4 linked regions of the Homo sapiens genome follow. The protein of the gene in region 4 purifies or fractionates together with the protein of the main gene of each other region. This does not show direct contact. Each region holds a gene or a part of one and is shown on either strand. Other genes may lie near its edges.

Region 1 (3,589 bases), on a different chromosome or scaffold from region 4:
TAGAGAGAATTAAAGCAGTATGCAACAGATGCTTACAAACTAACACCTCACTGACTCCAGGATTTGTTAAGATCTTACAGTCTCAGCTGGGTAAGGCTCTACTGAATAATCCTGTGGTCAAGTTGTTTTGGAGGAAATTTTAACACACCACAGAAAATGAGAGATGAGTTTGATACCAGCATTAGATAAGAGTGCCTATTATGTATACCAGTTATATCCAGAACCAGAGGTGTCATTCGGCACTACCAGGTCTACTCACCCATCTGTGGCAGGTTTCTTCCGGAGTATGCTTGGCCGTGGCGATGAGCCCTGGGCGGGAGCGTTGGTGCTAGCACTCTGGCTGTGGGTCTGCACCACGGTTGTTGCTGCTGGAGCAGCACTGAATGGATTGCTAATAGGGTTGGCCACAATTGTGGCTCCATCTGCCAACACCACTGCTACAGGAGAGAGGCAACAGGAAAGAACATTGAAGAGAGGGAAACAAAATGCCATAGAAGACATAAATAAAAATGATGAGACCACTAGAATTAGGTATCCATGTTCTAACTGTCCAATTTCAAACTGATAAGGGACAGGAGCACAATGTTCATCCGACAAAGAGCAGATAGCTAAATGGGAGCAGTTACTAAGTCTACTGATGCATGATCCATACCATTATTTTTTCTTTTTCTTTGTTTGAAAGAGAGTCTTGCTCTCTTGCCCAGGCTGGAATACAGTGGTGCAATCTCAGCTCACTGCAACCTCCACCTCCCAGGTTCAAGTGATTCTCCTGCCTTAACCACAAGAGTAGCTGGGATTACAGGCGTGCACCACCACACCTGGATAATTTTTGTATTTTTTAGTAGAGACGGGGTTTCACCGTGTTGGCCAGGCTAGTCTCGAATTCCTGACCTTAAGTGATCCACCTGCCTTGGCCTCCCAAAGTGCTGGGATTACAGGCGTGAGCCACCACACTTGGCCCATACCATTATTTTTTCTTTGCTCTATAATCACAGTTACTAATAAATGAGATAAGGTGAACAAAGTACATAGTATCTAGTATAGTCTCTCACTCTACTAGTTACTTTACATTTTTTACTGATATAATTCTTACCATCATTGTAATTTCCATTTTAGAGATAAGAAAACTGACAGACAAGAAAGGCTTAATACAAGAGCCACAAATAGAAAACACTATCTACCAGCCTGATAGCATGCTCCAATGTACACTTCAAGAAATGTACTCATTCAGTTTTTGTAAAATACCAATCTCTCTCAACCCTCAATAATGGTACCCTCCCCAGTCTATCTTTAGAAACACATTCAACTAACAGATATTTTAACTATACACTTAAAGTTAGCATCAAAATACTGGTGAGCATGAGATCATAATCAGAAAATACCTGTGTTTGACAGTTTTTGACCTATAAAAATGGCAATTTCATAGGAGTCAACTTAATATCATGAGTTTTCTGGCAGGTGCCCTTAAATATGTAGTACACCATCCTACCGGGTGGGTCATCATGGGTAAATTGCATCTCTATCATAGACATTTAGTTTAGTAATAAAAAATCAGAGAGACTTTGATTAAATAGTTGAATTCAAGGTCTACAGAACAATTAAAATTCATAGCTCCAGCCAGGCACAGTGGCTGATGCCTGCAATCGCAGCACTTTGGGAGGACAAGGCTGAAGGATAGCTTGAACTCTGGAGTTCGAGACCAGCCTGGGCAACAAGCAATATCCTGTTTCTACAAAAAATCAAAAATAATTACCCAGGTGTGGTGGCATGCACTTGTAGTCCTTGCTACACGGGTGTCTGAGGCATAAGGACTGCTTGAGCCCAGAAGGTCAAGGCTACAGTGAGCCATGATTGTACCACTGTGTTCCAGCTGGGCAACAGAGTGAGTGAGACCTTGTCTTTTTAAAAAAAAAAAAAAAAAAAAAATCAGTGCCTTGGCTGAGAAACAGCCATTTTGTTTTTTTAAACTACATTAGAGAAATGGCTAATCAATAATAATCCAAGTACATGGAATCTTAAATTCAGCCAAAAAAAAAATAACCTAGCTGGTGTAATGACTCATGCTTGTAATCCCAGCACTTTGTGAGGCCAAAGTGAGTAGACTACTTGAGCCCAGGAGTTTGAGACCAGCCTGGGCAACATGGCAAAACTCTGTCTCTATTAAAAATACAAAAATTAGCCAGGCATGGTAGCTTGCACCTATAGTCCCAGTTACTCAGGCGGCTGAGGTGGGAGGATCACTTGAGCCCAGGAGGATGAGGCTGTGGTGAGCCAAGATCACACACCACTGCACTCTAGCCTGGGTGACAGAGTGAGAATCTGTCTCAAAAAGATCTAAATACAGTGACTTATTCCATTTTTCAAAATGTTATTCCACTAGTATTTCTTTTTAAGAATTCATAATATTAGCTAACATCAGCATAAGGTTTTACAGCTTTATGTACAACTCTGAAGAAAATCTTCAATGAGAATACTACTTATAAGGTGAATTTTTTCCCACAACTAGGAGCTTTTAAAAAAGATAACACTTCTCATTATGTTCAAATGAATACTAGGGCTGTTGATGTATACTGTATCTTTTTTTTTTTTTGGAGACAGAGTCTCACTCTGTGGCCCAGGCTGGAGTGCAGTGGCGTGATCTCGGCTCACTGCAAGCTCCACATCCCCAGTTCACGCCATTCTCTCGCCTCAGCCTCCCGAGTAGCTAGGACTACAGGCCCCCGCCACCACGCCTGGCTAATTTTTTTGTATTTTTAGTAGACAGGGTTTTACCACGTTAGCCTGGATAGTCTTGATCTCCTGACCTCGTGATCCACCCGCCTCAGCCTCCCAAAGTGCTGGGATTACAGTGAGGTATATTATTTCTAACGTTTACAGTGACCCTGAAACTCTAAGTTCTAAGCAACTCATATTATTAATACAAAGAAGAAAAGGCCTAGAGAAATTATAAGACGACAAAGCCAGTGGCAGAGAAAGGATTTAAACCCAAATGTATTTCTTTTCTCCAAACCACCTTCTATGCAAAAATTTAAAATTACCTGAAGTCTTTCCTTCAGGCTGAGGCTGCTGAGTACCCATAGGTGCAGGCTGAAGCCCTTGTGTGTTGATTGGGGTTGCTGAGTGAATTCCCTGTGTGCCAAGTGGTGCAGGCTGTATCCCTGGGGTCCCAATGGGGGCCGGCTGGATACCCTGGGTACTGATGGGTGCTGGCTGGATCCCTTGAATATGTCGAGCATGCGATGCATCCACTGTCATCAACTGCATGGGGTTTAGGTGGACGGTAGACGCTACCCCAACACCAGTCTGAGCTGTGATGGCAGAGTTTGGAGCCTGAGCTGAAACTAAAAATGATGCGAAAGGTAACTATAAGAAGGTTAGCTTCATTTCACACAGTCCACATAAAGAGAGAAACACTAAAAACGGATTTCCTCCACTGTATAAGATCTAAATCCATGGTTTGAAAAAAAATAAATAAATAAACATTGTTACTTGAAACTTACTATACTTGGGATTGTTATTTCCTTTCACTTCCTACCAATATGATGTTGTTTTTCTACAGACTACTAGAAATATGATTAAAACAAGAAAA
Region 2 (3,589 bases), on a different chromosome or scaffold from region 4:
ATTTGATAGAATTTTTTGGAATTTATATATTGTAAGAAACACAAGTAGTTGGGACTTTCATTTTTGAAAAACATCGGCAGAATCACAGCTTGGAAGCTGCTTCTTTTTGTTTATTTATTTATTTTTTAAATTTTCCTAAGTGGTAAAATAAAGATGAGACCTTTGAGCTAGTAAAGGTTGACCAATTGATTTTAAGAGTAAATTTCTTGGGATTTTTCATATAATTTCCTAATCGCGAGAAAATGTGAAGGTCAAGCAACTTGTCAGTGTTAAAATATCCATATTCTCTTTAGTTTCCATGAACTAAAACATAATTTGAAGTGAAGAGATGCCAGCCCCTGCTGCAGATAATCAGTGAGTGTTTGTTTGTATGTGGGGCCACAGGGCGGATCTCTTCTCCAGTCTGAGTGATTGATTTTTTGATTTTGTCTCTGAGCTTAGCACCCTTATTTATCAAGCTGCCCTTCAGAGTTCAGTCCATTATTTTAATTGTGGTGCCTATTTTCTGCAATTAGACTTTGAACCTAGAAGATGCAAATACATACGGTTTGGGGAATGAGAGCAGTCATAAATTTAGATATTACATTTCCTTTTTTTGGAAGATTCCTTTTAGACACTTGGGTTGGGCATACTGGAGATTGTCTGTGAATTCAGCGTGAAGAAGGGAGGCTTTAATTTCTGGAATCACTTTGTGTAGGAAGTTCTCTTAAAACTGATTTAAAAATAATTTTTAGGATAAAAATGGAGTTGATAATGGACTCAAGGGAATTTTTAAGTGTTTTTTTTTTTAGATTCTAAAACTTTTAGGGTATGATGGTTGCACAACTCTAAAATTAACGTACTGAAAGTCATAAAGTTGTACATTTAGAGTGTATGCCTTTTAATGGTATGTAAATCCCATCAGTAAAGCCACTTTTAAAGTAATCAAACACATAATACCAAATGGTAAGTGCTTTGAAAAAAATTGAGGATGGCTGCGGAATAGGTAATGGGGTAGTGAAGGAACAGACAAAATGGACTCCTGTGGTGTGAAGTGAAGGAGGCATTAGCTAGTGAGTCCAGCTCCTTTGTCCTTAAAACTGCAAAGCCAGTCCAGAAGTATGAGTGTTCAGAGTCCTTGTACTATTCATGACTTGGGCCAGAGTGCCCTGGGGAGCATGCTGCTCCAGCATTTAGACACCCAGCCATGCTCCTAACCCATGTCTAAAACCCCTGGGTGATGCTGGCACACCGAGGCTTGGGAACTCTGCCTCACTCATGGGTGGTGTTTACGCACCCAACATTCATGTCTCAGCAGCAAACAGCAAGTGCTGCCAGGGTTGTGGTCGCTTAATGGGAAGGGAGACTCAGAGAGGAGAGCCCAGTGAAGATTGAAAAGGCAGGTATGAGACTAAGCAGAGTAAACATTCAACTCCTGATGAAGCTCAGGGTCTTGTAGTAAATGTTTCTAAAATCAGGGGGTTGGATCTTCTACCAGTTGAACGTTGCACAGCTTCATTGAGTGTGGTTAGAAGTCCCTATCTGTCTTGGTGGGCTTAGCTCGTCTGAGCATCAGCTTTCGCTGAGGAATTGCGCCACTCTACAGGGGCCCCTGGTGGGCATTCCAGCACTCTCCAAACAAACAGAAATGCAGTTTCTGTCTCGCTGATTTGCAGTGCCTTAGTAACACTCACAGCTTATAAGGCTTAAGGACTTTCTCTTTCCTGCACCATCATGTATAGTTCTGCGGGACATGAGTTAAGTTTCCCCATAAAGCACAAATGCACTGAATGGCCACAGCCTGGGGGCTGTTTGCCATTCCTCCTGTTAATATATTAACTCTCTCAAAATGATCTTCTCAAGCTTGAGTGCCAGCCCATGGCACATGATGGAGGAGGAGAAGGGAGGGGGGCATAGAGGCACTCAGGCCAGCTTCAGAAGTGGTGGATGGAGCTTGCAAAGATGTCTGTGAGGAGATGCAAGGCTTTGGGGATTTCTGTTAAACCTCGAGGTGAGAAATGTTACATTTTATCTACCAGCACAGCTTCCTCCTGTGTGGGCTTTAAAATTCTGGGAGTTGTCACTGTAATTTAAATATGTTTTGTCTTTTCTTTTTCTAGCATCCGGGGATGGAGAATCACTGGTAAGATTTGTTGTTAATAGTCTTATTTTCCTGTTGAAGTCTCTCCTGAGTGAATGTCTACTTGTCTACTTGTTAAAAAAAGTCCAGTCCTGGCTGTGTGTGGACTGGGTATGCCAGTGATCTTAATGCTTTGGGAGGCTGAGGTGGGAGGACTGCACGAGTCCAGGAGTTTGAGACCAGCCTGGGCAACATAGCACAACCCCATCTCCACAAAAAATTAAAACCAAATAAATTAGCCAGCCGAACATGGTGGTTCACGCCCGTAATACCAGCACTGTGGGAGGCCAAGGTGGGTGGATCACCAGAGGTCAGGAGTTCAAGACCAGTCTGGTCAACATGGTGAAACCCCGTTTCTGCTTAAAATACCAAAAAAAAAAAAAATTAGTTGGACACGGTGGCAGCGCCTGTAATCTCAGCTACTCAGGAGGCTCAAGCAGGAGAATCACTTGAACCCGAGAGGAGGAGGTTGCAGTGAGCTGAGATTGCACCACCGTATTCCATTGGGCGACAGAGCAAGACTCCGTCTCAAAAGATAAAATAATAAATTAGCTGGACATGGTGGTGCACTGTGTAGTTCCAGGGTCGCTGGGGCCCAGGAGCTTGAGGCTGGAGTGAGCTGTGATTGCACCACTGCCCTCCAACCTGGGTGATAGAATAAGACCCTGTCTCTTAAAAAAAAAAAATCCATTTCTGTTTCCTAAAACTCTGGGATTAATTTGAAATCATTACACATCTAAGTAAAAGTATGTGTTTCATATGTTGATTTCAGTAGCAAATGTGCAGTGCTTTAATACTGCCTGTTTCCCATATGTGAGACTGATACCGCCTACTCTGGGTGAGACCTTTGGACAAGTTGTGGAGCTGTAGGGCCCTCACTTCCCACTTTCTCTGCCATTTTGCTTCAGTAGCTCTTTAAAGCTACTTAAAGTTGTTTTAAAGGGGCTTTGAGTGTCTAGTGGCTGTCCCCCAGCAGTGCAGGAGTTTGGTGTTTTAAGTTAAGTAAATCAAAAGTGAGGGGCTGAGGTTTGGCTGAGGGTGGTGAAGTGAATGTTTTTATCCCATTAAAATGAGTTAACACGTAGGTTTTTCCTCCTCAGGATGAAGATTCTGAATTCACATTAGCCTCTGATTTTGAAATTGGACACTTTTTCCGTGAGCGGATAGTCCCGCGGGCTGTGCTGTACTTCACTGGGGAGGCCATAGAAGATGATGACAATGTATGAGGCTCGGGGAAGGGGGGCTTCCACCTGGGTGCTTATCTCTGTTGGTGCAGAGTGGCCCTGAATTGTGGCTTAGGAAACCCCCATGCCTAATCTTTTTATTACATCATCAGCCAGATATGTAGTCCAAGCTGCTGTCCTTGTTGTGGGGGGAATACGCTTGAAGAGGAGAAGTCTGAGGAACAGAGCAGGAAAAGCAGGTGTCTGTGAAGCAGTTTCAGAGGTGATTGCCAGTTTCCTATGTGAG
Region 3 (4,138 bases), on a different chromosome or scaffold from region 4:
TCCCAGCTACTCGGGAGACTGAGGCACAAGAATTGCTGGAACCTGGGAGGCGGAGGTTGCAGTGAGCCAAGATCTGCACTCCAGCCTGGGTGACAGAGCAGACTCTGTCTCAAAAAAAGAAAAGAAAAGAAAAAAGGTATCAATTATGTTTATAAAGTTGTTCTACACAGTTAAGCTCTTATGCAGGCACTGAAAATTAAAATAATGATTTCAGGAAAGAGAAACCCTCTCTGAATGTTTTGCGTTATTTTCGTGAGATTTCCTCAACCCTAACTGTGCAGCAACACACTGTTTTGTATGTGGCTTTAGACGGAACGCTCAGTGACTGGAGAAAAACCACGTGGGATTTGATGGTGAGAAGTAATGATAATGTAAAAATACTACACCTGACTAGGTAAGGTGACTCATTCCACTCACTCTGCTCAAGAGAAAAAAAACATCCCTGGCGGAATGCAGTGGCTCATGCCTGTAATCCCAGCATTTTGGGAGTCTGAGGCAGGAGGATGGCTTGAGACCAAGAGTCCAGGACCAGCCTAGGTAACATACCGAGACCTTGTCACTACTAAAAATAAAAATTATAAAAATAAAATTAGCCAGGCGTGGTGGCACCCGCCTGTAATTCCAACTGCTAGGGAGGCTGAGGCAGGAGCTTGAGTCCAGGAGGTCGAGGCTGCAGTGAGCTATGGTCGCCTGTCACCGCACTCCAGCCTTGGCGACAGGGTGGAAACCTAGTATTTAAGTTTCTTAGAAAAACGGCTGGGTGCAGTGGCTCACGCCTGTAATCCCAGCACTTTGGGAGGCCGAGGCGGGTGGATCACCTGAGGTCAGGAGTTTCAGACCAGCCTGACCAACAAGGTGAAACCAGTCTCTACTAAAAATACAAAAATTAGCAGGTCATGGTGGTGCGTACCTGTAATCACAGCTACTTGGGAGGCTGAGGCAGGAGAATAGCTTGAACCCGGGAGGCGGAGGTTGCAGTGAGCCAAGATGGCACTGGGCGAAAGAGTGGGATTCCATCTCAACAACAACAACAAAAAATCCCTTTTTTTTTCTCACTTTCCATGCACTTGCACCGAGAATTTCTCTCCTGGGAGCAAAGACCACATTGCGAGTATCGAAGGAAATCAAATCTGCAGGCCCAGGCCCTTCCCAGCTGCGGGCAGAGTGGGGTGACTGCCCCCAGGCGAGACGCCCCTCTCCGGCCCACCCCTAGCCCATCTCCGCTTCCCAGCGCCCATGGGCCGGTAGCTGGGTTCCGCATCCCGCTCCAAGCCCATCGCCCAACGCTTCTCTCGCGCCCTCTGCAGGAACCTGGGCCGAGGGCCGCCCCGCCTCGCTGCCCCCAGGCTCATAAATGGCCTCTGCGCCCTGGCCGGAGCGGGTTCCGAGGCTGCTCGCTCCGCGCTTACCCTCTTACCCGCCCCCACCCCCAACAGTGGGATTACGGTCCATGGAGCAGGAGGAGACCTACCTGGAGCTCTACCTGGACCAGTGCGCCGCTCAGGTGAGGCTGCCGCCACTGTCCCAGAGTCAGGACCCAAGTCCCGCCCGGTCCTGTGCCAAGGGCTTTGCCTTCGTTCCTCTTAAAACTCATAGCGACCATAAGAGGCGGGCTTGGTTTCCCAAGTCATTAAGTTGAAGGTTAGAAGCTTCGAAAAGTGAAATAATTTGACCAAGGTTGCCAAACAGAGCTCGAACTTCATCTAGCACGAATCCAGAACCGTTCACTCAGTTACCAGATTACATGGCCCTTCCCAGGTTGTTCTGGTTTTTGATTGATTGATTGATTGATTGATTGATTTTTCTCTGAGATGGAGTCTCGCCCAGGCTGGAGTGCAGTGGCGCGATCTCAGCTCACTGCAACCTCCGCCTCCTGGGTTCAAGCGATTCTCGTGCCTCAGCCTCCCGTGTAGCTGGGATTTCAGGCACACGCACCACACCTGGCTAATTTTTTTTTTTTTTTTTTTTTGAGACAGAGTCTCGCTCTGTCACCCAGGCTGGAGTGCAGTGGCGCGATCTCGGCTCACTGCAAGCTCTGCCTCCCAGGTTCACGCCATTCTCCTACCTCAGCCTCCCGAGTAGCTGGGACTACAGGAGCCCGCCACTACGCCCGGCTAATTTTTTTGTATTTTTAGTAGAGACAGTGTTTCACCGTGTTAGCCAGGATGGTCTCGATCTCCTGACCTCGTGATCCACCCGCCTTGGCCTCCCAAAGTGCTGGGATTACAGGCGTGAGCCACCATGCCCGGCTAATTTTTGTATTTTTTAGTAGAGACGGGGGGGGGTTTGCTTTTCTCCCCAGGCTGGTGTTGAACTCTTGACCTCAAGTCATCCCACCCACCTTGGCCTCCCGAAGTGCTGGGATTTCAGGCGTGAGCCACCACTCCTGGCCCCCCGCCTGGTTCTAAAGGACATGCACAGAGAGTGCATTGTGCTAGCTGTAGTGACTTCAGGTTCCCACGGGTTTCTGCTTTGACAGGGGAAACAGAGAGCCCCTGTCCCCTGCAGCATGGATGCCAGTACTAGGCCTCCCTCTAGAAGTCAAGTCTCTGGTGGAGCTGGTGGTTGCAGGGTTTGCCAAATGTCAACTAGAAACACCTGTGGCTTTTTTTTTTTTTTTTAAAGTTAATTACTCTTAAGACTTAAAAATCCTTAGCATTGGGCAGGGTGAGGTGGCTCACGCCTGTAATCCCAGCACTTTGGGAGGCCGAGGCACGTGGCTCATTTGAGGTCAGGAGTTCAAGACCAGCCTGGCCAACATGGCGAAACTTCGCCTCTGCTAAAAAATACAAAAATTAGCTGGGCGTGGTGGCAGGAGCCTGTAGTCCCAGCTACTCGGGAGGCTGAGGCAGGAGAATTGCTTGCATCCAGGAGGAAGAGGTTGCAGTGAGCCGAGATGGTGCCACTGCACTCCAGCCTGGGCGACAGAGTGAGACTCCGTCTCAAAAAAAAAAAAAGGCAAGAGAGCAACTTACTTTTTTTTTTTTTTTTTTGGTGGGAGAATTTTTTTATAAAGACAATGATCAGCACTGAGGTAGAAATGGTGACTTTCCCTAGCATTTAACACAGCAAAGAAGAGCCCAGACAGGAAAGGTTCTGAGAAAGGTAAGTGGATACAGTTTAACAAAAATGACTAAAGATTCTGAAGCCAAGGATGCAGTGAACGTGCTACACAGACATGTTCTGAGGAGAGTCACTACAGGCAGACCCTGCAGGGAGCCGGTCAAGTTTCCATTACCATAAAACATCCTCCTTCAAATCCTCGCCATTGCCTTACATTCTTGTGTACGTGTAGCTTTGTTCCCTGATAAAATGCCATGATGGGGAAGGGGAAGGGGAAGGGAGACACTGACTGTTGCAGCTTTGGTGCTTTAGCGTAAATTGCGGGAGGAGACCCTTTACATCTGGGACAGGTGAGACCAAGGAAACCCTGCAGTGGAATTGGGGCCCATTGTCCCCATCTCACTTTTCTTAGGCCACTCTGTGGGTTGAGGGTGGGGAAAGATGGGAGCGTATCATGTATTCATAATGAAATAGAGGTCAAAAATCTTATTTCAAGAGAATAGCTTGATTTTGTTTTTAATTCTAAGTGCTTTCTTTAAACAATTAGTCACCCCTGCCACCTGCTGGACTTGTAGTAACAGAACACTCCAATAGGCTCCAGTCAGACGTACATTAGCGGAGGTAGCATTGTCACTGAGAAGATGCAACACGGTGCATTCCTGACCCTTCAGTGGTCAGAAAAGAAATAAGATCTTTTTGAGTTTCTCCTGCAAGCAGTGCTCAAAATCTGGAGTCCAGGCCCGTAACTTGAGTGAAGCAGGTGGTAATGCATTTATCAAGCTAATCGATTTTTTCCCATAATAAAGTCCATGAATTTTACATTAGTTGCTTTCCTCAGGTGCACACATCATTCTCTCCGTTGCTGGATAATGGTAGTTGAGCAGCCTTCCCTGGACTGAAAATAAATTGATTTACACTATTCTTACCATTTAAGTTTCAATAACTTTTTTCCTAGTGTAAATTCTTCTAACTAGAACATTACAAGAATTCTTATTACGCCTTTGCCTAGAAGGAATAACCATGGGTCTTTAGTGAGTCTTGATTAGCATTCAACTATATCTTAAACTTCCTTCAT
Region 4 (3,500 bases):
CTATTATTCAGAAACACTACCTGGCTCATAATATCAGTGTACATTCTATAAATTATACTCTTAAGTGAATAACTGAATTGCTTGATCAAGAAATTCAATGTGAGATTTCAGTACCACCATGCGTCTCTACATTTACAGATTGATATTACTGTATATATGCATATAGTCATATCCCAAAACAATATAAAAACAAGCTTTGATATGATTTATGGAGGCTGACTATGTGAACATTGTGATGTAACTTTTCAGCCAAAAGCTTGAAAATGCAGTGAAAAACTGCAATGAAGAAATGCATCTTGGCTGGGCATGGTTGTTCATGCCTGTCATCTCAGCACGTTGGGAGGCAGAAATGGGTGGATTGCTGGAGCTCAGGAGCTCAAGACCAGCCTGGGCAACATAGTGAAACCCTGTCTCCACCAAAAATACAAAAAACTAATCGAGAGTGGTGGTGACTGCCTGTGATCCCAGCTACTCAAGAGGTGGGAGGATCGCTTGAGCCTGGGAGGCAGGGGCTGCAGTGAGCCGAGATCGTACCACTGCACTCCAGCCTCGGTGACAGAGTGAAATCCCCTTTCAAAAAAAAAAAGCCGGGCACGGTGGCTCATGCCTGTAATCCCACACTTTGGGAGGCCGAGGCGGGTGGATCACCTTAGGTCAGGAGTTTGAGACCAGCCTGGCTAACACGGTGAAACCGTTTCTACTAAAAATACAAAAAATTGGCCAGGTGTGGTGGCACGTGCCTGTAATCCCAGCTACTCAGGAGGCTGAGGCAGGAGAATCGCTTGAACCTGGGAGGTGGAGGTTGCAGTGAGCTGAGATCTCACCACCGCATTCCAGGTTGGGCAATAAGAGCGAAACTCTGTCTCAAAAAAAAAAAAGAAAAAAAAAGAAACGTGTCTGGCCAGGGGCAGTGGCTCAGGCCTGTAACCCCACCACTTTGAGAAGCTAATGCAGGAGGATCGCTTGGGCCCAGGAGTTTGAGGTTGCAGTGAGCTATGATTGGGCCACTGTACTCCAGCCTGAGCCACACAGGGAGACCCTGTCTCAAAAATAATTAAGTAAATAATAAAATTTTGAAGAGAAATGCGTCTGAAATTCGATAGTGATTCAGAGCACACACTTGTCTCGATCTGAAAACGTCTCCATGCTAACCGCGCGGGCGGCAGGTACGCACCACGTAGGTGCTGACCGTCTCAGTCACCACGCTGCGCACGGGGGCTTTGGCACTGGCCCCGGAGGCGGCGGGACCCGGGGAGGGCAGCAGGGCAGGGCCCGCGGCGGCCTGGGCGAGCAGCGGCAGCGGCACGGGCGCAGGGCTGACGAGCATGGGGCCGGGGGCGGGCGCGGGGGCCGGCGGTGGGGTCTTCGGCCTGTTCTGCGAGGGCGCCGGCTTGGCCTCGGGGGCAGGGACCACCTTGCTGATGACACTGTCAACAAAAGAAGAGAAGGTAAAAGTCAAAACAGGATCATCATCGAACCAAACCCGTGCTTAAAAACATGATCGTAAAATAGCTTTTCTTCCAGTAGCGAAATACTTCAACGTCTAGAGGCAGCTCAAGAACTGAGTTCCAGGCCCTGCATGAAGTGGCCTCTCCACTTACTCAGACGAATTTTTCATTTTCCAAACTTCCCCTCAATGGCCAGACAGTTAGAAATTTCTAGCAACCAATACACATGCATTGTTCACAGAAATATGACTTCAATTGCCTGTTCCTGTGCTGGGGCAGAAGCTCTGACGGCTTCAGAGGTGGCGCTCCCCACCCCCACCTCTGCTGAGTCCTCGGGGGGGCCTGACAGGGGCTGCTCCTTCCACTGTGGCTCCAGCTGGAGAGGACCTGGAGCAGCCTGTGCTCCACACTGGAGATGGGCAAGAAAGACACATTTGCTGTTGGAAGCCCTTGAGATTTTTGGGTTGTTAATTACCATAAACCTAACCTGGCCTAAGCTGCTGGACAGAGCAGCTTAAAAAGAAAAAGTTTCTATTTCTCTCTTCTTAATTCCAATGTTTCTTCTTAATACTCTCAATGCCATTGTCAATAAAACTGTGAAGACTTTCTCACTTCTGGGTTTGGCTTTGATTGCCAGGTTTTAAAGATTGACCGTTCAGGCTGGGCAAGGTGGCTCACCCCTGTAATCCTAGCACTCTGGGAGGCCGAGGTGGGTGGATTACCTGAGGTCGAGAGTTCAAGACCAGCCTGGCCAACATGGTGAAACACCGTCTCTACTAAAAAATACAAAAAATTAGCCGGGTGCAGTGGCGTGCACCTGTAATTCCAGCTACTCAGGAGGCTGAGGCAGGAGAATCGCTTGAACCCAGGAGGCAGAGGTTACAGTGAGCCGAGATCTCGCCACTGCACTCTAGCTTGGGCTACAGAGTGAGACTTCGTCTCAAAAAAAAAAAAAAAAAAAAAAGATTGTTCCCAGACGGGCTGCAGAGGTAAGGAGGAGGTAATGCAGCGGCAGCTTCTGTCCTGGTGATGCTGCCGCAGGTCGCTAGAGCTGTGGTACTGTGACCCTGCTCCTCCACTAACAGCATCCTCTTCACACAACTCTCGCCAGTGGAAGCAGCTCTGGACTTGGGGCCAGGACATCTGAGTTCAAATTCTACAGCCGCCAGAGACTAGACCTGTGGCCTTGGATTACTCAATTTATTATAAAAAGCACTATTTATTGAGGACCTATAAGAAGTTAGAGGTTATACTAGGCACTTTACAAACATCATCTCATCCAGTCCTTATGAGAACATCAAAGAAGTAATGATTACCCCATTTTGTAGATGAGGAAACTGAAGATCAGCAAGAGAAAGGAATTTGAGTAAACGGGTGGCAGCTTTTGAACCAAAGTCTACTTGATTCCAAAGCTTGTTTTTAAGCTTCTTTATTAAAAAAAAAAGGTATATATATATATATATATATATATATATATATATATATATATATATAATTTCACACACAGAGAAAACAATATAACAGACAGTTAGGTAATAATCAGAGATAAAATATGTTAGCCTTTGCCATATTTGTTTCAGATGAACTTCCTTCCCTGCCCCAGAGCAACCACTGCCCTAAGACAGGTATGTTTTTGTTTATTGTTCTTGGTACTTTGTTTTTTTCTCTGTACCTTTCCTGCCTTTGTAGGTGTCCATAAACAATACATACTGCATTACTGTTTGCTGTCTTTTAACTTTTATACACACAATGTCACACTCCAGTTGTCCTCTGCAACTAGCTTTTCCCACTTAGTTTTATGTCTCCTGATTTATCCATGCTGACACATAGAGATCTATATTATTTATTCTAATTACTATATTGTATTCCATGGTATTAGTAAGCCAAAGGTTTTTGTCCATCATCCTACTGAAAGTAGGAGACATTCACTTGTAAACTTACACACTGACTCATAAATAGAACTGTTCAAGGACTTCTCCAAGCCCCATCCCTAGAAATGAAGTTTCTGGGCCATGGAATATGGCCATCCTCACCTCACCAGGAATTGCCAGC

What was found.
Region 1: the proteins of TAF3 (region 4) and SAP130 purify together in Homo sapiens (affinity purification with western blotting, with the first as the bait; one study listed by BioGRID). This does not show direct contact.
Region 2: the proteins of TAF3 (region 4) and NAP1L4 fractionate together in Homo sapiens (co-fractionation; one large-scale study listed by BioGRID). This does not show direct contact.
Region 3: the proteins of TAF3 (region 4) and TBPL2 purify together in Homo sapiens (affinity purification with western blotting; one study listed by BioGRID). This does not show direct contact.

Annotation. Positions count from the first base shown.
Region 1 is NC_000002.12:127,986,526-127,990,114, forward strand, and holds part of SAP130 (histone deacetylase complex subunit SAP130), read right to left. Parts: intron 3,342-3,589; coding exon 3,039-3,341; intron 438-3,038; coding exon 260-437; intron 1-259. UniProt on the Homo sapiens protein: Acts as a transcriptional repressor. May function in the assembly and/or enzymatic activity of the mSin3A corepressor complex or in mediating interactions between the complex and other regulatory complexes.
Region 2 is NC_000011.10:2,954,277-2,957,865, reverse strand, and holds part of NAP1L4 (nucleosome assembly protein 1-like 4), read left to right. Parts: intron 1-2,099; coding exon 2,100-2,122; intron 2,123-3,219; coding exon 3,220-3,339; intron 3,340-3,589. UniProt on the Homo sapiens protein: Acts as a histone chaperone in nucleosome assembly.
Region 3 is NC_000014.9:55,437,762-55,441,899, reverse strand, and holds the start of TBPL2 (TATA box-binding protein-like 2), read left to right. Parts: upstream 1-1,283; 5' UTR 1,284-1,450; coding exon 1,451-1,504; intron 1,505-3,563; exon of another isoform or gene 3,564-3,958; intron 3,959-4,138. UniProt on the Homo sapiens protein: Transcription factor required in complex with TAF3 for the differentiation of myoblasts into myocytes. The complex replaces TFIID at specific promoters at an early stage in the differentiation process.
Region 4 is NC_000010.11:8,007,005-8,010,504, reverse strand, and holds part of TAF3 (transcription initiation factor TFIID subunit 3), read right to left. Parts: intron 1,428-3,500; coding exon 1,175-1,427; intron 1-1,174. UniProt on the Homo sapiens protein: The TFIID basal transcription factor complex plays a major role in the initiation of RNA polymerase II (Pol II)-dependent transcription.